2 separate regions of the Homo sapiens genome follow, and region 2 is linked to region 1. The links come from fine-mapping of genetic effects on gene expression. Tissue or cell type: T cells. Region 1 holds a variant in brackets; the other region holds the start of a gene. All regions are shown on one strand. Distances are between the middles of the regions. Region 1 overlaps EPHA8 (EPH receptor A8). Region 2 holds the start of C1QB (complement C1q B chain).

Region 1 (5,000 bases):
CCCTGCCTCCCCCCACCCAGCTGCCTGCGTGATCATGCATTCAGTCAACCACTGTTCATGAGCACAACTCTGGACCAGGCCTGTTTGGGCCTTGGAGGGCTGTGAACCAGAGCCACTGGCTCTCAGCTGGGATCACTGCTAGGAGGGAGGGAGAGAACAAGGGGGCTAAGGTGATGGAAGGGTAAATGGTGGGAGGAGCTACTTCCCAGAGGAGGAGATGATATTTGAGTTGTGGCCTAAAGAATAAGGAGTCCACTGTGCAGGGAGGGGGATACCCTAGGTTGAGGGAGTCTCCAAAATGCACATCTCACTCAGTCACTGCCTGTTTCATGCCTCACAGGCTCCCCAGGGCTTAGACAATGAAACCTGGTGTTCAAATCCCTCCCTGCCCAGCCAAAACCCACTTGGAGCCTTGTTTAGTGCTGCCCCTCACCCCCATCCTTAGGCCAAACTAAAGCACTGGCCGATCCCCACACCCAGCAGTCTGATTCCTGCCTCGGGGCCTTTGCACAGGCTGTGCCCGCTTCCTGGGCTGCCTTTTCTCCTCTGTCCACCTACTGAGCTCCTCTTTTAAGATTAATTTTGACTGTCCCTTCTGGAACTCTAGACACACGCGTGCGCACACACACACACACACACACACAGAGAAACGACCATTCCCCGCCCTGCTCCTGCGGCCCCTGCTTGGCCTCACCACCTGCAACACTATGGCTGTACTCGCTTGTCAGTGCTGACTCTCCTTCTAGACTGGGAGGCCCCCGTGGGCAGATCCTTGCAAACAGAGTACGACTCCCTTATTCATCTCAATGTCCCAGAACCTGGTCCAGTGCTAGCCCTGGGCAGATGCTGTTAAACTCCAGGCAGGAGTTTTCAAATTGAATGGATCCCACCATTATCTGCTCTGGGCAGAGACCCCAGAGGTTCAGGTGGGCCAAATGCCACCCAGCCAGGCAGCTCCCGGCTCCGTCCATGGAACTGAAGTCCTTTGCAACAGGGACCACTGGGAAGCTCACTGTGGTTCTCTCTCCACTAAATCCTGTTCTGGAAAACTCAGTGCCTGAGAGAACCTTCAATTACAAAGACATCAGGCCACTGCAGAGCATTTCTTCTCTGGATGTTGATCGTATCTCTTTATTACAAAAGCTAAAACCAGGTTCATTTGTAAAATTCTACAAACTTGAGAGAAAACCTGGAGTCAGGAGAAATGGTAACGCCCTGAAGTTGCTTCATACTCTAGAAGGCTGCAGAGCCAGAAAGAGCTTGTAAGTTGCAGAGTGGGGGAAAATACGCACCATTGTTGCAACATCTTTCCCTCCCCTCCAGAGGATCCCAAGAGGGCTCTGGTCTGCCTGGGGGCTGAGCTCAGGTCTAGGAGCTCGGAGTCGTGAGGAGTCTTGACTGACACACTGTGATCTCGCCTCCTCTTCCCAGAAGCCCCCCGGGAGGCTCAGTCCTGGGGCACAGCCTTGGGCACAGGCTCCTTCTGAGCCCCGGGGGCCGCTGGGGGTGGCATCATCAGAAAAGGGCTTTGCATTTTGTCAGCAAATATTTGTTGAACCTGTTACTGAGCTGAATGACAGTAATCCTCACTGTAATGATCCAATCCACAACGATTAGCATCTCAGAGACCATTTGCTTCTTCCCTCCCTCATTTATTCCTTTCCCCAACATTTACTGAGCTTCTACTATGGACCCAAGAGAAGTAAGAGCTGGGCCTGCTCTTAGGGAGCTTCCACGGCATTGGCAGACGGACAGGCAAAGCCTCATGGCGTGATGCGGGGCCTGAGGGAAGCCAGCACCACGGCTGGCCCTGCAAGTCTCTGACCCTTTCCAGGGCCCACCTGGTCCTTGTCAGGCCCGAGCAGAAGCTCGGGTGTAGCACCTGGGTTCCTGTCCTCGTCTAACCCCCTTTATCTGAGCTCAGTGACATTAGGCAAGGTGCTGGAAGTCAGTTTCCTCGTCTTTAAGGTGGAGATCATAATTCTACCC[A/G]CCTTAGAGGGAGATGGCAAGCATGACATGAGTGAAGACACATAAATTCATGCCAGGGCAGTGCCTGGCACTTGTTGTTATAACAATTTGATGTAGTTGGAATTCTTACAATTGTTCGACAGAAGAGGAAACAGAGGCTCAGGGAGCCTGAATGCCTTGCCCCAGGTTCCCAGCAGAGCCAGAATGTGCAGTCAGGCGGGGGAGCCTCTGGAGCTATGGCCTTTCCCCCCGTCCTCCCAGCACCGTCCCAGAGCTGAGAGATGGCTGCGCCGCTGTGGCTCACCAGTCGGCAGTTCTCACACACTCGGCTAATACCCATATGGCTATAATGTGTCAAGGCCAGATTAATCCACGCAATGAAAATAAAATAATCTTTAATAAGAATACTAATCACCAGGCCTCAGGGAGCCCAGAGACCTGGAGGCTGGGCCGGGAATTAATGGCTGAGACAGATGGAGTGGCTCTGGGCTGGGGCCCGGCCCTGCCTGTCGACCCAGGGTGCTTCCGGAGCCTGCACGTGCCCGGGTGTTGGGCCGCGAGCCAGGAGGGGCTCCTGACCCTGCTGAGGGCACCTTGCCCAGGCCGCCTGTCAGGCCAGCAGCTGCCTGTGGCCCTGGCCACCTCTCTGCTCTCCCCCGCAAAGAGCCGGAGATTTGACAAATAAGGTGTCCGCTGGTGGACAACCAAAGGAAATTAATTCTAAATCAGATTTTAAACACAGTCAGGAAGGCAAAAGAGCTCACTGTTCCTGCTCCCCCTCCGAAATGAGACTCTCTGATATTTATAGAAAGATGATTAGGGCCGCGAAGGGTGATTTATATTCTGCGTCCAGGTGACAGGAAGGACAGCAACCAGGACTTCAGACTCTGAGCTGCTGCTCCGCTGGGTGATGCGCTGAGAGGCCCTTCCTCTTTCTGGGGTGAACCAGGGTGCGGGGGGTGCTGGGAAGTGCAGTCTGGTGTGGGGAGGTCACTGGATCCGGAGTTGTGGAGTGTGGGGAGCTTCCTCTGGGCAAGGAGTTGGGAGATGTGAGATTCTATCAACCACCCCTCGCTGTGTGCCCTTGGGCTAGTCACTTCACTTCTCTGGGCCTCCAATTCCCCAGTGGTAAACTGGACGAACCCCACATGGCTCTGACATTTTTCCATGGGTCTCTTGAGGTCTGAGTGCAATCTAAGCAAGGCCTCTAAAGAGCCATGTGACCTGGCGGGTCCCTTATCCCAGGCTATACTGTCTTCTGCAAAATCAAGTACTGCCTGGCCACCTTCTGAGGGTACCTCTAAGGGCAAAACCCAAGGCAGGGAGGGCAGCTGTTGAAGGGGGCCTGGCCCCTGCTGTGGGTCTCAGGCTCTCAACCCCTGCTCCTGTCACTAGAAGGACAAGGGCTCAGGACTGGGCAAGCTGAGACCCCCTGACTCCACGCCCTTCCTCTCCTTAACTGTTTGCTGAGAGAACTGCCCAGAAGGGATCAGGATGTTCTCAAACCAGGCAGGGGCCCCATGGACCTCAGCAGGTCTCCTGAAGACTCCCTCAGGCTGGGCAGGGGCAGTCCCAGATTGCAGAAGACATCTCAAGTATCCCAGGAAAGGTACCCCACTCTGTTCCCAGCCCTTCCTTTGCCCCAGGCCATCCACCAAGGAGCCGGGCAGCTCCAAAGAGGTCAAGGGCTTCTCCAGGGGTAGAAAGGGGGACCAGGCAGGGCTCTTGGACCTGGCTCCCATTTGTGAAAGGCCTTAGTTTGAGACCCGTGCTGACCTTCCCAAATGAGGTTACGCAGCCAAAGAAGCCACCAACGGGGCTGAGAAATGTCTTTCCTTGTGCGACTTAAAACGGGCTTTCCGTTCCCAAATCTCACTGCCTGCAGTGCACTATGAATTAATATTTTTTATAAAACCTGTAATTATCTTGCAACTGGCATAATTACGTTGTATTATTATTTAAATGTAAAATTCAAAATATGCTGCAATTCCCTAACCCCACTTTGGCATTTCTTTTTATTTGTTATTAATGTGGCAGCAGTGCCAGGAAATAGGAGTGGCCTTGGCCTCTCCCAGCCCCCGTGAGGTCCTGCCACTCAGGCCCTGGGGTTTCCACTCAGAGCCCCACCCCTGATGTGCTGAGAAAATTGGGCAAGACATATCCCCTCTCTGGGCTCCGCTTCCCTCTTCTGCCACACAGGGAGACTGCAGCGTTACCTGAGACCTCCAAGCGAGGTCTTGACCCCAAAGACAGGAGGGCAGGTCTTCTTCCTACAGACAGATGTGGTTCAGTTCACCTGGGACAAATAATTGGCATATTTGTACTCGCTGGCTAAATCCAGACTTGGGGACGGTGGCCGACCCTGAGTGCGTATGCACCGGCCAACCAGCCAGATTGTTATGACTTATGCTGTACCAGTTGCTAACCATCCATCCGAATGCTACCCCAGGGAGGAGGGAAGTGGGGCTTTGCAGAGGGCTTTGTGCACAGAGGAAGCAATTGAAGGTGCTGGAGTCAGGCAACCTGGGATCAGATCACTACTCTGCTACTTAAGTTGAGGGACCTCAGTTTTTCTTATCAGTAAAATGGGACTATAATACTTATCTTAAAGGACTGTTGTAAGGATAAGAAATTGCTAAGTCCCCAGAGGCAGGGACTCCCTGTACCTGTATCCCCAATGCCGGGACACAGTAGATGCTCAGCAGAATGGATAATTATTACATCAAAGACGAAAAATCATCACTAAGGTCCTTCATTAGCCCCACCTGAATGAGGGGAGGTTTGGCGCAGCTCTGGCGGACAAAGCAGCCTGGGGCAGGCTAGGGAGACGCTAAAAGCCTGTACCTGGCTCAGAGCAATACAGACCTGTCTTCAGGCTCCAGCTCTCACTAGCTGTAAGGCCTAAGCAGGTAACACTACCTCTTACACCTCAGCTTCCCCATCTGTAAAATGGAATTGTGATACCTGCCTTGCTGCAATGAGCAAATGAGCTGGTATGTGATGCGCCCCGCTATGAGCTGTGAAGGCAATAG
Region 2 (5,515 bases), 70 kb before region 1:
TTCCATCCATAGTTTGCACCGTTTCAGTGATGGGCAGCTCATTACCTCTCGAGGCAGCCCATTCCACCTTTGCCCAGATCCAAATGTTTTTTCTTCATTCGAAGCTTGGGTCAAAGCCTTCTTCCTCCAGGAAACCTTTCCTCAGAGGCTGAACTGTATCCTCTCTTAAAATGGGGGAGCAGAGTGGTCTCTGCCTACTTCCCAGAGTGGCCACAGGGACCCAGGTGAGACCATGGATGGGAAAGAGTCATAAAGCCTTGAGCCCCAAGCTCTCATTGGGACTTGTGGCTGCTACTGCTATTGCTGCTGTTCTCTGATCCTCTCAACACCCTGGGGAAGTGGGTTGTGATTAATTTCCCATCTTGCAGATGAGGAAACTGAGGATCGGAACTTAGAAAGCAACCTACCCAAAAATCACCCAGCAAACTATTCTAACAGCAGGGTTGTGGCCAAACTCCTACCCTCTCTGCCACATGCTGGCTGTCCCAACCCCAGAGTCTGGCATGTGGAGGGCTCCCTGGGACCAGACAAGGCCTACTGATATTTGGCTCCTATGCTCTGCAAACCAGCCTCAGCCCCTCAGCCTAGTCCTGATCAATTTCTTGCTGAAAGCCCTGAGTTATGCCAGACACTGTGCACCAAGGAAAGGAAGCTGTAAAGATGAGTGTGGCCAGGGAATGCTGGTGACAGCTTTAGGTTCTGTCAGGCTCTATGCTCTGAAGACAGGGTGGCTCAGGGGCATGGTCCTGCTTATCCATGAATAAGCATCAGCTCTCACTCTTGCTCTTGCTAAAGGTTTTACAAAATGGCAATTTAACAACTTTAATAAGTTGGGTACGTATAGGCCAGGCTCTGAGCCAGATGGCTTGCATGCCATTATCCCCTGTAATTTGATATTCAGCCCCTGAGAATGCACTCTTGCTTTCTTATTTTACAGATGAGGCAACGGGATCAGAGAGGGCAAGCACCTTGATAAAAGTCACACAGCTCCTGTGTGGCTGGGAGTCAAACCCACATCCACTGGATCTTAAAACTCAATGTTATGTTAAGAGGCCACTGTACCTGGTGGTAAAAACATAAACTTTGAAGCCAGACAGCCTGATAAAAGGACTAATGCATGGGACACACCAAGGGTAGTGGTAGGCACATGGTCAGTGTTCGGTGAAAGTGGCTTTTTACCACCACGATGATTGCTGCTCTTGTTAGGCAGCACACATTCACCTGGTGGCGGGAGCCTGTAGTGTCACAAGGAAAGCAACACTCAGCGTTCACATAAGGTCTCTACTGCTTCTTAGCTAAGGGACTTGGGAAATCACTCCTTCTCTCTGGCCACAGTTTACCCTCCTATAAAGTGGGGATAATGCTACTCTCTCCCTCATAGGGTATGTGCGAGGACATGAGTTACAGCTTCCAACAGAGCCTGGCATGTTGGAAATTCTTAATGAATATTAGCTATTTTATTATTATCACTGTCATCCAAGAATTCCTGAGTGGTTGAACAGAAGGGAAGATGGTTGGAGAAGTAAAAAAAGACAATCCCTTTGAAAGACTGTGTTTAGAGGGAGGGGCTCTGTCAGTTGGAGGCAGCAAGGGGTGGAGAGCTGTGACCAGTTGGTGGGGAGAGAGGGTGGGGAGCAGGGTACTGACAGGACTTGGGCTTCCTGGGGAAGCCAGGGGCAGGGGGAGTGGGAAAGTGCTGGTTCTAGCCCATTTCAAAAGCCACCGAGTTTCAGCCTTGGGTTAGGGCTTACAACTCATCTGGTTTAACTGCCTCCTGCCTGTGCCAGCCCATCATCATTGCCAGCGCGGTTTCTCCTGTCCTCCCCCCAGGCTCTGACCTTTCCATCTCCTTCGGTCCAGCAGTCCCTTTCCGCAACATGGAGTCAGGCCCACTTGACTTTAAAGCCCCATCTGCTACCGGCTGCATAACCTCAGGCAAGTGCCTTAACCTCTCTGAGCCTCTTGGCAATGCTGATTTCAACCTGACAGGGCTGCCAGAAGGATGACAGGAGAAGGCGCTTAGAAGAAATAAGGTCCCCCCTGCCCCGTGCAGTGCCACATCCCACTCCCCAGCTGCACAAACATTGCGCTCACTCAGTACTAGCTGAGAACTCATCGTAACTCTACCTGCACATCCCCTTATTTCTTTGGAAGAGTCAAGCTGAGCTTTCTCAGCGAGTATGAGGAAATAAGCAAGGTGTTGGGGAAATGCTGGGCCGGGCAGGAGCGACTGGCTTATAATCCCACTCCTGCCTCTGGTTTACTGATAAATTTTGAGCCAGGGCATGCACTAAGCTTTTGCAAGCTTGATCTCCTGTAAGGCACAGCAGTGCTGAAAGATTCTGTTCTCTGTAGGGGGGCCGGGCTGAGAGAGGTTAGGTGACTTGCCCAAGATAACCAATACATAAGGTGCAGAGCCAGACTCAGCTCAAGTCTCTGCGATGCCAAAGCTCCTATGTGCCAGGCTCCCGCTTTAGGTGGCCTGCCCATCCGCTAGGCCCTGGGTAGCAGCAGACTCCCCAACTCACCCCAGAGATCTGGGTCCCATAGGTCTGGGATTGGGCCCAGCTACCTGCACTGTTAAACAGCCTAACTGGCTCCGAGGCAGGTGACGCAAAGCTCACACTTACGGAATCACCACTTTCTGCCATATTGGCCCTGCCAGCCTCCCCCAGGCGCCAAGCCCCGTCCTCACCTGGGAAGCTGGTGTCCTGTGAGGCCACTGGGCTGAGCAGCAGTGGGACCAGGAGCCGAGAGCCTACTGCCCTCGGTCCGAAGCGGAAGTTCCCTTCCCCAGAGGCGGGAAGGGCTTTCCCCTGACGGTCCCCTCCCATGGACCAGCAGGCTGGCCCCTTTCCCGTCCCCTCACTGTCCCCCCACCCTGCTGCCCTCAGGCAGTTTCAGGTCCTATTTCTGCAACCCACTGGATTTACTGTAAATGAGACGGGTGGGTGGCAAGTTTGGTTCTGCCAACTCAGCAGCTGTGGGGAGAACACGCTGTCCTGGGGGAACATCCACAGCTCACCCTCCCAGGCTCTCTGACCTCGTGATCTTCTTCTACACTGGGCAGGGGTGTTCCTCAGTGAGCATCATGTGGCGGGCCCGCTGCCTGAGTGCTGGCTTACAGTCAGAGCCTTTGATTCCAATCCCGCCTCTGCCACTTGCCAGTTGATGTGTTGTCAGTCAAGGGAGCCCCAATTTTCTCTGCTATAGGATGGGACCATAATTGTACCTGCTCTACAGATACAGATCTCACAGGCCACTGGGAGGATAATGGAGGAAATGATGGGGGAGGAAGTGTCTGGGGGTAAACTGTAAAGGGCTGTGCACGTGTTCATTGTTAATATCACTTCATGTCCCAGGCTTCCCCTTTCTGGGCTCATCTCTTCTGCTTCCTTCCCATTCTGTGCCCCTGCTCTTTCCCTGTTCTCAGAAAATAATCTCATAATGAATTTTAAATGTGTTCATTATTTATTGATACCCCTCCCTCTGCTTCCAGCAGGGCTGGACGCTGATGACAATAATAGGCCCAGGCAGGGGCCTGTTGCTTCTTCTCGATCCTGGAATCACGCCAAGTTAGGGCCGGAGAGGGGCTGAGGTTACTCGGCCCATCCTCCTCATTTTATATACGAGGAAACTGAGGCCCAGAGGGGAGACCCACCATTTAACAAATATTTAGTGTTTGCTTCCATGTGCACTGAAGAGAGAGCTCTTAGCAAATCAGCCATGGTCCCTGCCCCCATGGGGCCTCCCTTCTACGGGGGGAGACTGGTGTTAAACACGGAATGACATGAGGCTTCATTGCTTCTGTGATAAATGTCACAGAAAGACGTGACTGCTGGGGCCGATGCCTCATGGAGGTGGCAGATGCAGACCTGGAAGCCGGCATCCCTGGCACTAGGATATCAGTCTCTCCCTGTGGCTGCGTCTCAGACGACATGATGACTAGCAAGCACCAGGAGCTGGAGGCCCTCTTGACATCTGTGCTTGGAGATGGAAATTCACTGGGCTTGTGGATGCAGCTTGGTGGAAATTAAGTGTTAACTGCAATGGGTGAACAGGAGGGAAAGATAAGTTTGATAAAACCAAAAGGTCTCTGAGCTCAGTCAACTATAGTCCCGAAGGGACCCAGGCTAGGGTGAAGAGAAGAAACACTGGATTCCACAAAGGGAGAAACGAGTTAGTAGGTTGCAAGTTGAGGGCTTCTGAGCATTCCCAAAGCCGAGTGGCTCTGGGCCTCTAGTTCTTTTTTTTTTTTTTTTTCTTGAGATGGAGTCTCAGTCTGTTGCTCAGGCTGGAGTGCAGTGGTGCGACCTCAGCTCACTAGAACCTCTTCCTCCCAAGTTCAAGCGATTCTCCTGCCTCAGCCTCCCAGGTAGCTGGGACTACAGGTGCATGCCACCAAGCCCAGCTAATTTTTGTATTTTTTTTTAGTAGATACAGGGTTTCACCATGTTGGCCAGGCCGGTCTCAAACTCCTGACCTCAAGTTGATCTGCCTGCCTCGGCCTCCCAAAGTGCTGGGATTACAGGCGTGAGCCACCATGCCCAGCCTCTGGGCCTCTAATTCTTAGGTGGCTAAGGGCAATGGGAAAAGATGGATGTCAATTTGGGGTAGAAGCAGTGAGGCTAAGAACAGGAAGCAGCAGAGGTGGGTTAGGAGCACGGACTTTGGCAGTTTGAATCCCAGCTCTTCGTCTTGCTAACTATGTGGCCACGGGAATGTTTACTGGCCTCAGTTTCCTCGTGTAGAAATGGGAAGCATGAACGCCTATCTCCTGGGGCTGTTTTGGGGGCCAGCGAGGTCCCCCTGCCATGTCCAGGGCCAGGTGAGTGCCCAGCCCTTGGTGGGCACCCACTGCAAACATGGGAACGGTATTACTTATATGAAGAGAAGATGGAATTCTTGGAACCCAGGAGCAAAGAAGCCATGCCTGGATTAGGAGGAGGCCTGGACTTGGGGATCAGGAGCTGAGGGGTCCCTGGGCCTTGACCGCTAATGGGAGCCAGCTGGTCTCTGTACCTACAAAATTTTGGACTCACATCCCTGATTGAGAGTGGAAAATCCCTGATCCCTGCAAAGAGTGGAAAAAGAAACCTACACCCCCTCACCTTCCTGTGGTTGGAAAGGGGTTCCTTGCAGCTTGGGGTGTCTTGTCCTGGCTCCTGCCCCACGTCCACCCCTCCTTGCCTGCCCCACTGAAAAACTCTCCCCCGCCTCCCCTCAGCAAGGCAGACACGTTGGCATTTTCAAAGGCTTGCCCCCCTGATGAAGAGAGAACAACAAGGAAACAATTATGGAAAATAAAAATGGCACAAAATTGTCATTTCCAAAGTACAGGTTTCTGATATGACACTGTGACCTACATAAATGGTGTATTGATTTTTTAAACAAAAGAGAAATGAGAAGAAAGACATATCACCCACAGCTTCGCCCGGCCGACAGCTAAGGGGTTGGTGGAGGAGAGCAGTGGATGCTGTGGCCGTGGCCTTCACGCTGTCCCCGCCGGGGGCAC

Evidence for each region. PIP is the estimated chance that this variant, and not a neighbour inherited with it, causes the effect. A credible set is the group of variants that fine-mapping cannot tell apart.
Region 2: it holds the start of C1QB, and the variant in region 1 is the best candidate, but not a certain one, in a credible set for the expression of C1QB in T cells (TOPMed, PIP 0.77).

Annotation. Positions count from the first base shown.
Region 1 is chr1:22,580,672-22,585,671 of GRCh38, reverse strand. The region is part of intron 3 of EPHA8 (EPH receptor A8); the gene reads right to left. Among named protein-coding and RNA genes, the nearest start is that of EPHA8, 20 kb to the right of the region's middle. The variant A/G (reference allele first, on the strand shown) is at 1,990.
Region 2 is chr1:22,650,484-22,655,998 of GRCh38, reverse strand. C1QB (complement C1q B chain) reads right to left here and starts at 2,763. Exons shown (of 3, transcript NM_001378156.1): 1 at 2,696-2,763.